Linked DNA regions of Homo sapiens. The protein of the gene in region 1 purifies or fractionates together with the protein of each later gene. This does not show direct contact. Each region holds a gene or a part of one and is shown on either strand. Other genes may lie near its edges.

Region 1 (7,030 bases):
GTAGTTAAAGACGATGTTGACTCGCTCGATGTCCATCCCCCGGCCAAACAGATTGGTGGCCACCAGGATCCGCCGCTGGAAATCCTTGAACTGCTGATAGCGTGACAGGCTGGGGTGCAGGAGAAACAAGTGGAGGCCGTCAGACACTGGGCTCCTGGTGGTGCTCCCTGCAGCCTTGGCGGGCGGCTCGCACTCACCGCTCCTCCTGGGCCATGCCCCGGTGGATGGCGATGGCCGGGAAGTTCTGCTCCACGAGGAGCTGGGCCAGGGCCATGCAGCGCTGCACTGACTTGACGAAGATTATCACCTGAGGGAAGGAGTGGCAGTCAGGGCCACACAGTCCCTGTGGCCCAGTGACCTCCCGAAGGTCCTGAGCCCCAGGACAGGCTGATGGAAGTATCACCTGGTTAAACTCCAGCACATCCAAGAGATCAAAGAGCTTGCGGTTCTTCTCACTGTCTTTGAGTTTGACGTAGTACTGCTGCAGGCCGTGCAGCGTGAGCTTGGTCTCGTCGTCCACAAACACCTCCATGGGCTGTGTGGGAAGGGAGGTGGGAGGGGCGGGCAGGGATCACCTCTGGGCATCTCGCCTGCCCAGAACCTTCCAGTGGGCGACTCCTTTGTGCGACACTTCCCAGAGGACCTGCTGCACCAGACCTCAGTAAACATCGCTCAAAAGCTGGATGTAAGCTCTGGCCCGACTCAGGTGTGGACCAAGCTTGACTCCCAGTTTGACAAGACCGAGGGGAGGAAAGGAGGCTCCGCCGGCTCCCAGCATCCCAGCATCCTCCGTGCCATGTGGGCCGTGCGGGTGTCCTGGGGCCCCAGGCTCCAGGCCCCTGGGGAAGGCCAAAGCTGCCACTCTCGCCCTACTCACATCCTGCATGAACTTCCTGCACACAGGCCGGATGTCCTTGCTCAGGGTGGCGCTGAACATCATGCACTGCTTCTCGTGTGGTGTCAGGCGGAAGATCTCCTGCACATCCCGCCGCATGTCTAGGTGGGGAGGGCAAGACATGGGTGGGCATGAGCGTCTGCCATGCAGGACCCCCACCCCAGACCAGACCCAGACCCCTCCCAACCTGTGCCAGGGAGCCAGTGGCACCGTGACGAGGGCAGAGTGAGCCGCGGGAGTGGCCAGTCCTGGTGCCTGAGGGGCTGGGGGGTGGCCAGCGAGCGCAGGCGCGGGAGGAGCTGCAATCCACTTACACGCTGGCGCGGAGCAGCCGTGCCCGTGCGCCTCGAGCCACGCTTCAGGGAGGGGAGCCTGAGGCAGAGACAGCCGCTGGGGTGAGAGCTGCAGCTGCCTCCCAGGACACAAGCCCATCTCCCACCGGCCCTGTCGGGGCTCACTGAGGGCAGGCGGGGCCTGGAACCAACCCAACAGGTGGCAGAAGCCTCATACTCCCAGAGGTATGTGTGCATGCCTTTACGTCCAGGAGGGACGGGGGCTTGCTTGGGCCCCGTGGTCCCATTCGGCTCGGGCTCAGAAACAGCACATCCCTCTGCCAGCAGCAGAGCTTTCCCCAAGATCACCACAGGAGCCCCGCCTGCCGGCCGCCCATGTAACCCACTCAAGAGCCTTCCGCCTGCTATGGGGCCCGCCTAGTCACTGACTCTCAGCTGGGGCTGCAAGGGCAGAGGACTCACCCAGCTGCTCCAGCATCTTGTCACACTCGTCCAGCACAAAGTGCTTCACATTCTTTAGGCTGAAGCTCCTATTCCGCACGAGCGCCAGGATGCGGCCCGGGGTCCCCACCACGACATGGGGACAGTTCTTCTTCAACACTTCTTCATCCTTCTTGATGGAGAGACCACCGAAGAACACAGACACCTATGGGGATGAGGAGGAAACCGCTCCATGCTGATACACGGCCCAAGGCCCCAACCTGCACGGCCCAGCACCTGCGAACAGGAGGCCTCAGGGGACCAAGGCAGGCCTGAGAGCCTCCCGGGGCTCCACTCAAAGGCAGCCCCAGGCTGGGACCTGCGCAGGCCCCTGGGAGCCATGCATAATTCATCAGGCTTTTAAGGAGCAAAAACCACCGCAAACCTCAAAGGCAGCTGCCCCTGCCAAGCTTGGTAAATGCTGGCTGGGCCAGAGCCGAGGCTAACAAAGCTGCAGAAACCAAGTGGCGCCTGGTCCAGTCTGGCCCGAGGGACTCACCTTGACGCTGGGCATGTACTTGGAAAAGCGCTCATATTCCTTGCTGATCTGGAAGGCCAGCTCCCTCGTGTGGCACATGACCAGGACCGTCACCTGGGAAGTGGCATAAGAAGAGGGCCTTACCTTAGGCAGTGTCCTAAACCCCTTCCCCACCAGAGTCCACCCAACCCAGTCCCCCTGACACTGCACCCAACATCACAGGCCATTTGAAGGCCCGGTCCAAATGCCTCCCACTTCTCACGGCCCTTCCCCACCCCTCACTCCCTATACCCTCCCACAGCTATTGAAACCTGTCTCCCAACACCAGGACCCACAATAAGAAACAGAAAATGGAACAGAAAATGGCCCGCATAATGTAATGGTTAGACCTGGCCTGCCTGGGTGACATGGGACCTGGCTCTCTAAGGATTTCCTGAATCTCGGCACTCGGGCGGCCCCGGTCTTCCCACCCGTGCCATCAGACACTGGACCACACCACAGCCCTCCACAGCACCTTCATCCTTCAGGATGTGCTCTGAGATAACGAGGGCACGGGCGCCAATATGAAGCCCAAAGATGTGCACCTGGCCTGACTCGGGAGCAAGACACCAGAATTCACTGAAGTGTCTCCCCAGGACAGTGGCACACAAGACAATGGGAGAAGACAGCCAGGGCCTAACAGCAAGGACAGTGGTGACAGCTATATTCGGGGCAACCCAACCTTCACAGATGGACACTCTCTAGGTAAGTGGCACGGCAAAACAGCAACGATGCCTCTGGGGCAAGGGGCAAACTGTGGGCACTTTCCAGTTATTTTGGCTTATTGGCAATTTCTAATTTTTGTTATAACTAATTATTTTTTGAGATGGAGTCTACCTCTGCCACCCAGGCTGGAGTGCAGTGGTGTGATCATAGCACACTGCAGCCTCGACTTCCTGGGCTCAAGCAATCCTCCAGCCTCAGCTTCCCAAAGCACTGGGCTAACAGGTGTGAGCCACCCCATCCAGCCTACTCTACTTCCGCCGCCACAGGCAGGGTGGGGCCAGGAAGGGAGGAGCCCACCCACCTGTCCGTTGACAGGCTCAATCTGCTGTAGGGTGGCCAGCACGAAGACCGCTGTCTTGCCCATCCCGGACTTGGCCTGGCACAGGACGTCCATGCCCAGGATGGCCTGGGGAATGCACTCATGCTGGACTGCAGGAGAAGCAGAGCGTGAGGGACGAGAACCTGGATGCACCCCCGTGCAGGATCCTCACCAGTTGACCGGGGGCCCACAGTGAGGGCAATCAGAAGAGGCCGAGTCCGGACAAGGCCACAGACACCTGCAGGGCTGGGGTATCCGCCTGGTCAAAGCAGAACGCCCCACTGCCGAGGGCAGCCACAGGCCCCGCTGGGCACAACTGATCCGCGGGACAGACGGGCCCCTCCCTCACCCACGGCAAACTGGAGGCGGCACCGCTCTGGGCGGGCAGGGCTGGTCTTGTCTTGGTGAGGACCTGGGCAAGAGGATAACACCCAGAAGGCGTACCCTCAGAAGGATGCTCAAAGCCACAGTCCACGATGGCCCGCAGGAGCTCCGGCTTCAGCAGAAAGTCCCGGAAGCCAGAGCTGTGGATGGAAACGTAGGATCCCTTGATGTCTTTCTTAGGGGGAGCTGGTGTGCTCTCTTGAGGAGCCTGGGGCTCTTCCTCTTCATCGTAATCCAAAAGATCGTTTTCCACATCCTGTTCTGCCATGATGCTGAGAAGAGAGAGAGGCAGGGTCCCGCGAGTGGGCACAGAAGGATGATGAAGCTTCATTCAAATGGCATTCTCTGCCGCCTCCTTCCATGAGTGAGCCCATCAGCTCTACCTGGGCTGCACCTCGCAGCTTCGCCCTGTCTCCACCTCCCCACCCCCAAGCTACCCCATCTCTCCCCCATGCCCCTCTGGCCACACCCACAGACAGAACACCCTCCACCTCCAAGGGCTTCCCATGGCTCACAGAGTTAAAATCCCAACTCTCACCACAGGCCAGGCAATCCCCTTGGTTTGACCCCTGCTCACCTCATCCCACACCACCCCCAGCCTTGTTCAGCTGCTCAGACCCCTGGAGCCCCTGCCCCAAGCCTTTGAACCTGGCTGTCACCGCCAGGAATGCTCTGCCCCCAGGTCTCTGCACAAATGCCTCCTTCTCCACACGCAAGCCTCAGCTCCAGTGAACCTCCTCAGACTACTCAGCCCAGAGAAGCCCCCTCCCTATCACTCCCCAAGGAACCCACTGGGCTTTCATGGGGCAGGAGCCCAAAGATCCCAGGGGTGGGGCTGCCAGGATGCTGGTGGGAACTGAGTTTGCGAGAGAGCAAGCAGTATCTGTCCAGCCCCAGCTTCTCCCACTCTCTGTGGTCTGCACAGGGGAATAATTAAGTGCTCTCATGAAAGGCCTCCTATTGGGCCTGGGCCAATAAAAATAAAGCTGAGAAGATGGAAAATGGAATTAATACAAAGTCTGCCTACCTCTTTGCTTTATTAATCTAATGCATACCAAGTGCCTGCTGGGTGCAAGGGACCCAAACATGAGGACAATTGTCTTTCGTCCTCCTCCCCTACCCCAGACTCCAGTGGGGGGTGGAGCAGAGGGTGACAGCTGCTACAATTCTTCCTGAGGCTGGATGCTGAGGATCCTAGGCCACTTTTGGCCTCGCTGTCACTCATTCCCGGCTCAGAAACAGCAATTCCATTGTCTCAATGGCTGTTTTCTCTCTCTCAACCTCCCTGTCCATGAGGCAGTGAATCCCACCAAGGCCCTCTGGCCAGTTCTCACCTATGCTACCATGCTGGCCCCAAGCTGCTATCACCTGTTTTATTATTATTATTATTATTATTATTATTATTATTATTATTATTATTGAGATGAAGTCTTGCTGTCACCCAGGCTGCAGTGCAGTGGCGCAACCTCGGCTCACTGCAACCTCCACCTCCAGGGTTCAAGATTCTCCTGCCTCAGCCTCCTGAGTATCTGGGATTACAGGTGCTTGCCACCATGCCCAGCTAATTTTTGTAGTTTTCGTAGAGACAGGGTTTCACCATGTTGGTCAGGCTGGTCTCAAACTCCTGACCTCATGATCTACCCACCTCAGCCTCCTAAAGTGCTGGGATTACAGGTGTGAGCCACCGCGCCTGGCCTTATTATTATTTTTAACTAGAACAGCTTTACAGGCTGCGCGCGGTGGCTCACGCCTGTAATCCCAGCACTTTTGAGAGACCAAGGCGGGTGGGTCACCTGAAGTCAGGAGTTCGAGACCAGCCTGACCAACATGGTGAAACCCCAACTCTACTAAAAATACAAAAATTTAGCCAGGCATGGTGGCAGGCGCCTATAATCCCAGCTACTCGGGAAGCTGAGGCAGAAAAATTGCTTAAACCTGGGAGGCGGAGGTTGTGATGGGCTGAAATCACGCTTCACTCCAGCCTAAAAAAAAAAAAAAAAAAAAAGAAAAGCTTCACAGAGATATTTACATGCTATACAACTCACCACTTAAGGCAGATAATTCAGTGGTTTTTAGTGTAGTCACAGACATGTGCAACCACTACCACATGTGCAATTTTAGAATACTTCATCACCTTGAAATAAAAGCTCCTGTACCCTTTACGTATCCATACCCTAAACACCCCACCCCAGCCCCGGGCAACCACTAATCTGCTTTCTGTTTCTATGGATTTGCCTGTTGTTGTGGACATTTCACATAAATGAAATCTTATAATTTGTGACATTTTGTGTCTGGCTTCTTTCACTCAGCACAGTGTGCTCTACCACATCATCAGTACTCCCTTCCTTTTTTTTCCCCCCTCTTTGAGACAAGGTCTTGCTCTGTTGCCCAGGCTGGAGTGCAGTGGCCCAATCAAAGCTCACTTCAACCTCTGCCTCCCGGGCTCAATCAAGCGATCTTCCCACCTCAGCCTCCCTAGTAGCAGGAGCTACATGCGCCCGCCACCACTAATTTTTGTATTTGTAACAGAGATGGGGTTTCACCATGTTGCCCAAGCTGATCTCCAACTTGTGGGCTCAGGCGATCCGCCCACCTCAGCCTTCCAAAGTGCTGGGATTACAGGTGTGAGCCACCACACCTGGCCTCATTTCTTTCCATGGTCACCTAATGTTCCATCTCACCAACATACTACATTTTGCTTAACCACTGTCAGCTGGACATGTAGGTGCCATCATCTCTTGCCTGAATTAAGCCAATATCCTCCTCCCTGGTTTCCCTGTTGCCATCCCCCAGCCCCTCCCCAGAGCAGCCAGAAAGACCCTATCAAACTAAGTCACGGCCAGGCGCGGTGGCTCACACCTGTAATCCCAGCACTTTGGGAGGCCTAGGCGGGCGGACCACCTGAGGTCAGGAGTCCAGGACCAGCCTGACCAACATGGTGAAACCCCATCTCTACTAAAAATACCAAAAATGTGCCGGGTGTGGTGGCGGGTACCTGTAATCCCAGCTACTTGGAGGCAGGAGAATCACTTGAACCTAGGAGGCAGAGGTTGCAGAGAGCCGAGATCACACCATGGCCCTCCAGCCTGGGCGACAGAGCAAGACCAAGACTCTGTCTCAAAAAAAAAAACAAACCTAAGAGTACATCACTATTCTGCTCAAAACTTTTAATGGGTTCCTACTGTGCTTAGAAAAAAACTCGAGTCCTCACAAAGCCAGCCTACCGGGCCCCTCCTAACCCGACTCCTCTATACTCATACCTCATCTCCCCCATTGCCCCTCACTCGCCAGCCTTGCTGCCGTGTCTCAAACACACCTCAGCACCTTTGCACTTGCTGTTCCTGCTGCCTGGAAGGGTCACAAATCCCCCACTTCTTTTGGGCCTCCTTTGCTCCAGAAAGGCATTTCCTCACAGC
Region 2 (4,186 bases), on another chromosome or scaffold:
GGGAGCTTTTTGGAGGAAAACTCAATTGTGCCCCAAACCTTTGGAAAACTTTTGGAAAAAACCTTATTTATTTATTTATTTATTTTTGAGGGAGAGGAGTGCTGGAGCTGCTGTCTAGAAGAGGTGGGGATGTGCTTAGATTTCCACAGATGTAGGACTCGATGATCTTTATTTGTTCAAGCCTCCAGCACTCTTTTCAATTTTCCCACCAGGGAAAAAATCTCACAAGGCGTGTGCTCAGTAAGAAGTTACATAAGATTTCAACATGTGTACCAGGACAGATAGAAGTTTTTCTGGAGGTAAAAAGTCTCAGGGGGTTGGGGAAGCCACACTAACACAACAAAACTAAAATGTCCCTGTCAGACCAGAGACCCCTCTCTTTGAGAGGTAGACTAGGGCTAAAGAGCTTTTTTGCTCTGTACCACGTCTTTCTACCATGCCCTGTGGAATACACCTCTAAATACCATGCGAGCAATGAACTAAAGACAAAGAAAAGGAAACACTTAAAAAGAGTCAACACAATTGCTAGTTTCATTTTTTTCTTTTTACTTGAAAACTTGTTTTAACCATCAAATTTTGGCAGTTACAAACCTGTACACTGTTGTGTTTTTTTTTGTTGTTGTTGTTTCTTTTTTTTGGCTGTCTTTTTTTTTGTTTGCTTTTGTTTTTTTTTTCTTTTCTTTTCTTTTTTTTTAGAAAAAGAACACAAGACTGAATACTGCCACCAGCAATATATGCAGGAACAATCCATTTCCTTAAGGGACAAAATCCACTCTAAGTGTTAGCTTTCCCCTTTGCATAAGGTTTGGTGTGTGATGTGTGTGCAAGTTGAGGTGAATGTGCATGTATATGAAGAAATGGCATACCTCATTGTGATTCTGAAATTGCATAAAAATAAAATACTTAATAACTGGGCAAAACACATTCTTTTTTACAAATGTCAATAAAGACAATTTTTCTTGAAAACAGAGAAAGTTAAATGAAAACAGTAAGAACCAAAGAAAGGTTACAGTACATTTTGAAATGAGTAAAAAACATCATTTTCAAATCTAAAATCCTTGTGTGTGTGTGTGTGTGTGTAGTTACCTCAAAAGTTTGCAGACCAACAGCGTGGATGACTTACAATTATATTCGACCCCCCAAATTAAAGCATCCTGATAGGCATCAAATATAGTATCTACAAAAGCCTGGAAAATTGAAACCATTTATATACAATTTTATAAACATTTCAAACACCAAAACATACATCTTTTACAAACCAGCCTGTTTGCAACAGGCAAACGTACAAGACAATCTCTCTGATACAGTGCTTAAAAAGAACTGCTTCCATTTCCAAACACATTTGCCACTCCCAAAATGCAGTAGTGTGGGCTCATAAGATTGTTAAATAGTAGCAATTCAGTTATTTGTTTGCCAGAAGGGTACTACAGTACATACTAATTGGTCCAAACACGCTCCAAATGACTCTACGATTCTCAAGTGCATTCTAAACACTAGAAGAGACTAATTATGGCCTTTGTGTATTATTACCTACTTGTAATTATTGCTTTTCATTATTACATAAGGAAAGAAATATCATATTCTTTTCCTATCTCTTAGCCAGCTGGCTAAATATTAATTGATGCCAAACCCACAAATGGTGACTTTAAACCCCAGCATTACACAACCAGAAGCTCAAAGACATTGTGGATTTTCATCAGAATAATGTGCAGTTGAACACTGTGGGACACAAACCAGCAAAAACATATAACCACCTTCTCACAGAGCACACAAAATGATGACAAGGAATAAATGCCTCTTCAAATCTCCATTTCCCATAGTTTGAAACTAAAAACATAAAACATTAAAGCCTAACCACTTTAGCAATACCTGTGCACTGGGAAGGCAGCGGAGTGAAGAGCCAATTATCTGGACAATCCATGCAAAATGAACACTAGATCTTCCTGAATTACTTCACATAAAACTGTTTTCTGGATTTTAATAATTTATTTTGATAATCTCTTTTCTCAATTCCCCTGACTTTGATGATGCAAACATAGCATCAGTGGGGGTAGTGGATAGGGTGGGGTGGGAAGTAAGTAGGAGAGGACTGATGGTAGATATGTTCAACTTGCTTTTTTTCCAGAATGTGCTAGTAATGTCCAAGGGAAGTTCCAGGCAAATCCCAGAAACTAGTTCCCTTTCCAGCCTTTCACATTTATTCCCTAATTGGATGAACCTCAAAGCATGGACCACCTACTCATGTTCCTAAGTCTTTTATATGGCATTTCATGAATAGGCAGGCCAAGGGTACATGGAAAGCTGGCATAGACTAGAATGCAGCAGCAAAATATTCATAGAGGAAAGGGAATAAATGAAGCATGCATTTTATTCACCTTTTATTACTCCCAAGTTCTTGCTTACTATATGACGAGCACCAAGAGTCTAGCTATTCTCAACCTAACCAGAATGTGTGCAATACTAGTAAAGTGCCTACAACAGATTATGGGAAATGGCTTCCAGGAGGTGGCACATACATGTTCGAAAAATGAGAAAGACATTAATTGATTTAAATAGTTTCCACATGGTTCATCATGGTGGAGGGGGTAGGACAAAGAGTAGCCAGTGTTTGTGGGAAGAAAAAAATGCAAAACCAAAACCAAAAATGCAACCAGTAGGTAACAGTATAATCAAAGTTTCACTACAACTGATGACTGGTCTGAGCTGAACTCTGTAATTATCATTTCATCCCTATTATACAAACATTCATTTGGCAAAAGCAGCATTTCGATGAATGTCTACAGAAATGTATGAATTCTATAACCCCTCTCCCTAGGGGGACTGCAAGGAAACATAAGATCATGAGGCTTTCAGAAAAATATTCTCCATGAATTTTCTTTTATAGCATATTCCAAAGAAGGAATGGTGGAAGTCAGAGGGTCCATCAGAACCAGGTGACTCCCATGCTCAAGGCAGTGTAGGGGTGAACAATATGATGTAAAAAGAATATTGGCTAGATGGATGGGTTCTACTCCTTGTTAAGCGAATTAACTTCCTCTGTGGGCTTGGGCAAGTCTCTTTCCCACTCTGGGTATGTTTCCTCTTTGATAAAATAAGGAGTTTGGACTAGCAAATAGGATTCTTCCAGCTTTTTTGAATTAGTGATCATCCCCACCTAGTAGCATCTTGGCCTGACTGCAAAGCATTTCATAATCTACAGAGAAATCTAACTTTCCAAAAAGTGAAGAGATATCATGTGTTTAAAGATAATAAATCAAAACACAATACATGCTTGCCTGGTATATATTTAGCTGCAGAGCTATTCTGCAGAAAATCAGGGGATGATATCCCAAAGAAAGAGATATTTTATATAGGTCACAGCAAAGGGTGGGCACAATTTTCTTCAGTGGCTTCATGACTGCATTAGGATCTATTTATTCTTTCATTACTGTGTCAGTCAGGCATTCTCCCTCAAAGAGATGCTGTGTAAGCAGTAGGGACTCATCAGCATTAATCTCATTCTAATATTTCCTGGGGGCAGGAAATGACATGTTGGTTTTACTTTGATGGTTTTTATGTCATTGCATTACTTAAAGTGTAGCAGTCACTCTATTCTAGGCCATTAGTTTGTCATTTTTTTCCATGATTCTTGCAAATGTGCTTCTTACATAAGAAAAATACCAAAGACTTTGTTCTCGAAAGCAGCCTTAGTGAAATTCATTTATTTCAAGATCACAGTGTGGATAATACCTCCATGAGTAGGTCTGACCAAGAGACAGGAAGAGAAAGGCTGGAAAACTTGTGAAGTGTAGTGTATCCACTTACTTAGAAAGTTTGGGAATGAAAAAGGATTTTTTTTTTTGCATAAACATTCAGAAACACTGACTCATAAAAAAGAAGTGGATTAAACGCAATTGAAATAACTAAAAATATGTCTGAGTGAATAATGCACAGACTAGGGACAGTACAATTTACACACCAATGCCATATGTCATCAGAAACTGTGGACACAGATTTGCTCATTAAGCAGATAGTGCAAATATGCATATATTTACCATGGCCACTGCACAGGCGGCCGTAATCTGATTGAAGCAAAAAAGGAAAGTCCCTCAACCTGTCAACTTTCAGTTTTGAGGACTGGATTGTTATATTTCCAGTGGAATGATTCTCCTGTTAATTTTGGAAATCATGGCCAAAGCCCACAGAT
Region 3 (7,030 bases), on another chromosome or scaffold:
AAAAATTAGCCAGGTGTGGTGGCGGCCAGAGGCTTAGGCAGGAAAATTGCTTGAACCTGGGAGGCAGAGGTTGCAGCGAGCGGAGATCACGCCACTGCACACCAGCCTGGGTGACAGTGACAGACTCTGTCCCAGAAAAAAAACCAAACCAAAACAAAACAAAACAGTCCAAGATGTAGGCACACCTGGGCAACATGGGGAAGGGGGAATGTGAACCAAGGAAGATGGGAAATGAAATCCCAGGACCTGGAGGCCAGAAAGTGGGGTCCCCGGATCTTCAGCCAGGAGCTTCCTGCCCTCATCCCACTAACAGCAGAGGCCATGTCCTCGACATCACATCGGGGCCTCCAACACCTACCAAAGGAGCCTTTGGGACAGGGAGCAGCAGCAGGCAGCCCGAAGCGGGTACGGGGCCACCAGATCCCAGCCTCAATCGCTCGTGGGCAGCTGTCATAATTCACTGCGGGGAAGAGCACATGGTCACCCAGGAGCAGCTCTCCCTCTGCTGTCCTGCCCAGGCTCCCCAGCCCTCCCTAGGCCTCCCCAGGCCTCCCCAGGCCTGCAACCAGCCCCTTCCTGGCTTTCCTGGGGTGCAGGTGCCTAGCACACTGTAAGGAGGGCTGCCCACCCATCCCAGGAGCCCCACCTTCACAGCCATTGGTGGTGACCTCAGCAAAAGGGTTGTCACAGCGGTCACACTGACGCCCGATGACACCTGGCTTGCATGGACACTGGCCATCCTCAGGGTCACAGACTCTGGACAAGGAGCCTGTGGGGTAGCAGTCACACAAGAGGCAGGTGGGGCTGCCTGGGGGCCGGTAGTGGTTCTCCTGAGAAAGGAGGGAAGAACGGTGTCACTGGCCAGGCTCTCTTCCCAGGATGCTCATGGGTCCTTCTCAGCTGTGGCCCCTGTGGAGAGGGTCCCGACCTCAGGTCCCCTCAGGAGCAGTATTCAAAATAATTAACACTAGCAATGCTTTGGAGTTGAGCCCATCAGCGAGATGTCACAGAATCAGAACAGGCTGCAAACCACCACCACACCAGGCCAGAGCTCATGGGTTACACATTGGCCCAGGGTCCCCCTGCGCCTCAGACACACGAAGGTAAGCAGCCAACTGCCCTGCCTGTGAGAGCAAAGGCACAAGGCCCTCAGCTCTACAGGAAGACCCATCCCTACAGCCTGCCCTCTAGGGCCCAGGAGATGTGGACAGAGGCCCAAGTGGCCACAGTGGAGGCTTGCTTGGGGCTGTCACCTTGCAGTGGCACTCGCCGCTTGTCTTGTTGCAGTCTGGGTCAAAGCCTTTGCTGACATCACAGTTGCATGGGCCACATGTGGGATGTCCCCACCAGCCACGGGGACAAGGCTGGTCAATCCTGCAGAGAGGGACCCAGGTAGGCATGAGCTCCCCCTGCCACTCCCACCTAACCTAGGTGAGCCCTATGTGGCCCTTCTGACCCTGGCTGTGGATCAGCCAGGCTTTCGGGGCTCTGAGGGACACACCAGAGAGAAGCAGCAGCCACTGGGACCTGCTGCCACATGCCCTGGTCTGCTTACCTGGTCTCACAGTATGGCCCAAGGTAATTTGGGGGACACTCGCAGGTATAGCCATGGGGGGCACTGGGCTTGCGGGTACACACAGACTGGTGCTCACACGGGTTCAGGTCACACACATTAGTACAGTTGTCACCATAGTAACCTGGGACCAGAAGGACCAGAGAGGCTCATTCCCCCACCCTCCCCTGGCACCATCTTCCATCAAACCCTTCATCTGTTTCTTTCCACATAGCATCCTATCAGCTGGCTATGGCTTTGTTGTGTAGGCAACTAAGACTCAGAGAGGTGGTGTGATGCCCCATGCCCCAGGTCACACAGCAGAGCCAGCATGTGGCCCCAGGCACCTGATAACCTGCCCGTTGCCCTGGATCCTTAGCATACCTGGATCACAGCTGCAGGAATAGCTGTCCCAGTCGTTGCTGCAATAGCTGTTAGCAGGACACGGGTTTGAGTCACAAGGGTCAGGCAGGCTACAGCCTTGCTCCACGTTGATGCTCTCCCCATGGCTGGGATCCAGGCTGTTAACCCCCTCCGGCGTATCGCTCACCCGCACACCCTGGGAGGGACAGGAGCAGTGTTGCCCTCAGTGGAGCGGGGCTGCAGGTGGTGGGGGAGGGGATGGGAGGGCAGGGCAGGACACTCACCTGCAAACAGCCCCGAAAGCCACGGGCCACACCGCCGGCTGGCCCAGGTATTCCGCCCACTGTTATGTTGCTCAGGTGCAGACCATGCAGCCGGGGGCCCAGGTTGCCCTCTGCTCTCTGCTGCCCATAATCGAAGGACAGAATGGCATGGCCGGGCCCCCCGCTGGCTCCCAGTGCCAGCTGTGCATGGTGCCAGTCACCGTCATTGGCCCGGCCTGGCTCCAGACGGAGAGAGGAGGCCTGAAGCCCTGTGCCCTCCACGCTCAGCATCACGTGGCCCTCTCGTAGCTGACACCAGGAGGAAAGAAAACAGGGTCAGCAGACGGCCTTAATCACTGTTCTCCAGCTCACAGTTCCCCTTTCTGGACCATCAAACCCATCCCGCTGCCCAGCTGAGGCCATAGAGAGGAAAGCGTATTTATTTCCCTCAGGCCCAACAGGTGGCAGCATTGACCTTCCCAACGGATCCAGCGGCCTCTATATGTCCCCACCCCTGCCCAGGACCTGCCCAGCCACTTCTGTCCAGCCGCCTAGAGGCTACCAGGGCCCTATGGCCAGGCCAGGGCCAGCCGCCCTTCCATGCATCACCTGTAGGGTGATGGTGCTGCGCCCCCTGGTGATGGCCTGCAGCAGGACACCGTCGGCCTGGCGCGTGCGGAACATGAGGCTGAGGTACCAGGGTTGGGAGATGGGCAGCGAGAGGCCATGCCAGGCCACCAGGCTGCTGCCCAGGAAGTGCTGTGGATTGGCCATTTCTGGGGAGGCAGGAAAAGGCAGACTGTGACGGGTGGAGCCTCAGAGGGCCCTGGGGCTGTGATGCTCAGCGGTGGCGGCTGCACGGGAGGCAGAGCCCACTCCCCTCATCAGCCCCGCCCTCCAAAGTGCGTACCTGCCCTGGGACCGCCCCACGCTGTGCCCAGGCCTGCCTCTGACTGGCCCCTTTGTCTCCTGTGTTGCCCTTTCAGGGCTCTGCCCAGACACGCTTTTCCACCCACAGCCCCGCTCAGCAGAGCCCTGCCCAGTGCCTGCCCCAACCCTGCCAGTTCCCAGACTGTTGATGGCACCCAGGCTGTGGCCTCTAACAGCCGCCCCTCCTACCCTGGGCGCAGCTCTTGCCCCCAAAGCCCAGGGGGCACTCGCAGCTGAACGCGTCCCACTGGTTCACGCAAGTGCCCCCATTGTGGCAAGTGTTGCTGTCACACACGTTCTTCTTGGCAGGGCAGCCTGGAATGGAGAGAAGGCAGCTCAGTGGACCTGAGCTGGGGCTCTAAAGAGAAAGCCTGTGGCAGCAGTTAGAGAGGCCTCTGAGACCCTCCATTCTGGCATCCTCACACCAGGCACAGCCCCTCCTCTCAGCACTGGGATCCCAGCCTGGCTCCACCCCGGGCCCCCATACCAGGCACGGTGCCATTGTTGGCAATGAAGTCAGCCATGTCTATGTGCCGGCTGTCCACCTGCAGGTTCCGCATGCAGCCCACGAACTGCCGCATTCGGACTGGGAAGCTCTCGGGCAGGTCAGGCACCCCGCCTAGTAGCAGGGGCCCCGTCAGATCCAGAGACCTGGGGGAGCAAAGATGGTGGCGGCACAAGGGAGGGCTGGGAGCTTCTGGTCCTCCGCTCGCTCTGCCGCCAGGCCAGAGACACGAACGGCGTAGGCAGGTGTCCAAGAGGCCCTGCAGAGCAGTGCTCAGGAAGGGCGTCACCCCTACCTGGAACTGTTCTTGTCGAACACTCAGCCCCCTCCCCAGACTGCCCCACAGGGCCTTGCTCTGATTCCCCAGTCTTGACCCCATCCCCAGGGCTGAGCAGGGGCTAAGAGAGGCAAAGGGAGAGAGACCCCAAAAGCCCACCCTCTCCACCTTCCCTCCCTGCCTGGCCCTGCCCTCACTTCACCCCATCCCTGGCCCTTTCCCCTGCTCACTTCTTGCTGCCACCCTGGGTGCCCTGGGCAGCACAGGAGTAGTTGCCCAGGACAGATCCGAAGCGCAAGGCCACTCCTGTGTCACAGCCATCCACGGTCACCACAGCCACCTTCTGCTCTGATGGGCCCTGTGGGAGCCCTGTCTGACCCAACAGTGGCTGTGGACAGGAAAGAGCAGAGAAGGGGGACACTGAGTACAGAGCCCACTAGGTTCATGGCCAGCACACACTGGGTGCCTCTGTGTGCACCCACATGCCCAGACACACGTACACACATGCATATACACACACGTGTGCTCACGTGGTTTATGCATGTAACTACCTTCCTCAGTGTCCAAGTTTGCGGCTGCCTAGTGGAACAGAGAGCATCGAGCAGTGCCCAGTGGGGTGGGAATGCCCAGCAAGGTGGCACCTTCCCAGCCGCTCCCTTCCTCTCAGCCAGAAATGCCCTGACCAGCCCACCCAAGCCTGGAGGCAATGCCACTCAGGGCTGGGTAAGCACCTGAGGCAAGAACAGAACCCCCAACCCTCTGTGCCCTCCACACCCACCTTATTGTAGTATTTCAGCTGCACCGTATGCCACTGGCCATCACTGACTCCTCCGGGCACGAATGGGGACACCGTGGTGGTTGACTCCCCTGGGGAAAGGACCAGGTGAGCTGGAATGCCTGACGAGGGCTAGGAATGGCAGGGTTTGGGGTGCCAGTGGCTGGGGCTGGGCCCAGATTTGGCTGATAGAGTATGTGGCTTGGGGTCAGGGGCTGGAAGACTTGGGGCCTTTGGAAGATGGGCAAGGATGGGGGGCAACTGTGATCACCTGCAGAGAAGGTGAGCTGGACCTGCTCCTGGATCACCTCGAGGGCCACAAAGTCATGCTTCTCATTGAAACGCCCATTGTACAACAGCAACCCGTCGCGCTCCTTTGTGGCAAACCTGAACAGGAGTTGGGGATGGGGGCAGGGAATGGGGTACCCACCTGGATGCCAGCACCCCCGCCACCTAACCAGCGCAGGGGAGGGAGATCTGCTGGCAGAACCACAGGCAACTCCAAGAGCAGACCTGGCTCTGCCGGCAGCCTGCTCCACGCTTTCACTGCCTGACCTCTTACTTCAACCACAGAACAGGAGGCACCTCAGATGCCCACCAGGCCCACTCCCCACCCCCAGTGCCCAGCCACTCACGAGAGGGCCAGGGTGAAGTGGAAACGCTGGCGCAGGCCGCGAAAGGTGATGAAGGAGTGGGCGGGGAAGCTGCGCGTGGTCACCTGGCAGTAGGGCTTCTCGAAGTCTCCAGATGGGCAATCGCACTTGAAACCGCCCACCAGCAGGTTGACACAGGTGCCCCCATTCTTGCAGACACCCGGGGTGCAACGGCCTGAGCGAGCACTCACCTCACAGTGCTCACCTGGACAAGAGGAAAGGCAGGTGAGTACCAAGTACCTGAGGACAGGAGGGGAACTGAGACCCCCCACAACCCAGTGATAGCTCCCATGGCCTCCCGTGACCCTCGTAATACTCCCCAAACCTCCCAGGCATCCCCACTTCCTCTCGTGTGCCATCTTCTCTGAGACCTATGGTCCCCAGCCCTTCATGGGCACCCTGTTTGGCTCACTGAGCCGCTCTCGCCACAGCTCCACGCACTGCTCCCCTGCAAGTTCCTCGGAGTCCCCAGCACCTTCCCTACCCCATTTGGGTTTCATAAGCACAGGCCTGCTGGGACACTTGGTTGTAAGGCCCGGATCCCGGGAGCCTTCGATGTCACACTACCAAGCACACCTGGGGGTGTCCTGGCCCCCAAGAGGGTAAATGTGCACAAGCAGATGGGCCTGCAGGACAGCGGGAGGGCTGGGAGCCTCCCTCCTCCCTCCTTCCCACTGGTGCTTTTGTCCCTCTCAGGCACTGAGATCAGTTTCCCTCCCTGGGGATGGGACCAGGCTTCCACTTAGATTTGTCTGGGTTATGGAAGAGTATGAGAGAGAAGCTGGGGAGCCCCCAGGAATGGGGCAGAGGACTCCCACCTTGAGCCCTGCGGTCCAGACTAAGGACCTCTGTGCACCTGGGACATGCTGAGAGTGGGAAACTGAGCCCTGAGAGCAGACAAGAATTCAACAGAGGAGCTGAAAACTCCAACATCAGATGGGAAAATCCACCCTTCTCTCCCTCCCCATTCCCAGATTCTAGAGATAGGTTCTCAGCTCCTGTGCCTAGTGACTGGCTCTTGTTTCCATGGAAACTGTTGTTCGCCTGCTCTAACCCCCCCCCTCCCAACCCCCCCCACCATCCTCCTGGACAAAGACTTCTCTCCCCTCCCCCAAGCCCGTCCCTCCCCTTCCCCCCACCCCTAGCAGCAGCAGAGAGAAGTCAAGTCTGGCAAGTTCTGGGCAGGAAGATGCAGCGGGGAAGGAGTGGGGCCTGCCTATGGCTGCTGGCAGAGCCAGTGGGCATGGCCCTGGAGGACAAGGAGCAGGGCCTGGGCATCTAGGAAGGAAAGGCCCACAGGGAAGGGGAGCAGGGGGTGTCCTGAGAAGACACAGGAGCCTGAAGGGAGGGGTCAGGAGCATAGAGCAGAGACAGTGAGCATCCCAGGGAGCAGGATGTGTAAAGACCTTGGCTGACAGGCCAACAGGGAAGCCGCCTAGCCAGGATCCTCTTTTACCAGCAGCTGGGCGGAGGCGGAGCCATTCTGCCCAGGCCCATACAGGTGCAATGGTTTTCTGGAGCACCCCATCTCAGAACTCAACCCCCTCCAGTTCCCCCAGCTCTTCTGTGTCTTCCCCTTAATGCCTGGGGAGAAAAGTACTTGCTGCAGCTCAGAAAAGGAACTCGCTCAGTGGGGGAGAGACCAGGTTCTAGGCCCAGCCTCACCTCTAAACCGGGTGTGATGAGACCAGGAGCAAGTCACCCAATCTCAG

Evidence for each region. Proteins that work in one complex are often made in the same cells at the same time.
Region 2: the proteins of DDX39A (region 1) and FAT3 purify together in Homo sapiens (affinity purification with mass spectrometry; 2 studies listed by BioGRID and IntAct, with this or other methods). This does not show direct contact.
Region 3: the proteins of DDX39A (region 1) and CELSR2 purify together in Homo sapiens (affinity purification with mass spectrometry; 2 studies listed by BioGRID and IntAct, with this or other methods). This does not show direct contact.

What each region holds. Positions count from the first base shown.
Region 1 is NC_000019.10:14,409,339-14,416,368, forward strand, and holds part of DDX39A (ATP-dependent RNA helicase DDX39A), read right to left. Parts: intron 3,887-7,030; 5' UTR 3,883-3,886; coding exon 3,675-3,882; intron 3,341-3,674; coding exon 3,213-3,340; intron 2,261-3,212; coding exon 2,168-2,260; intron 1,835-2,167; coding exon 1,651-1,834; intron 997-1,650; coding exon 878-996; intron 536-877; coding exon 404-535; intron 308-403; coding exon 198-307; intron 110-197; coding exon 1-109. UniProt on the Homo sapiens protein: Helicase that plays an essential role in mRNA export and is involved in multiple steps in RNA metabolism including alternative splicing. Regulates nuclear mRNA export to the cytoplasm through association with ECD.
Region 2 is NC_000011.10:92,892,814-92,896,999, reverse strand, and holds the end of FAT3 (protocadherin Fat 3 isoform 1 precursor), read right to left. Parts: 3' UTR 527-4,186; downstream 1-526.
Region 3 is NC_000001.11:109,259,535-109,266,564, reverse strand, and holds part of CELSR2 (cadherin EGF LAG seven-pass G-type receptor 2 precursor), read right to left. Parts: intron 5,524-7,030; coding exon 5,301-5,523; intron 5,053-5,300; coding exon 4,937-5,052; intron 4,758-4,936; coding exon 4,669-4,757; intron 4,279-4,668; coding exon 4,121-4,278; intron 3,760-4,120; coding exon 3,596-3,759; intron 3,424-3,595; coding exon 3,298-3,423; intron 2,955-3,297; coding exon 2,788-2,954; intron 2,488-2,787; coding exon 2,200-2,487; intron 2,112-2,199; coding exon 1,937-2,111; intron 1,698-1,936; coding exon 1,556-1,697; intron 1,375-1,555; coding exon 1,254-1,374; intron 831-1,253; coding exon 647-830; intron 461-646; coding exon 359-460; intron 1-358. UniProt on the Homo sapiens protein: Receptor that may have an important role in cell/cell signaling during nervous system formation.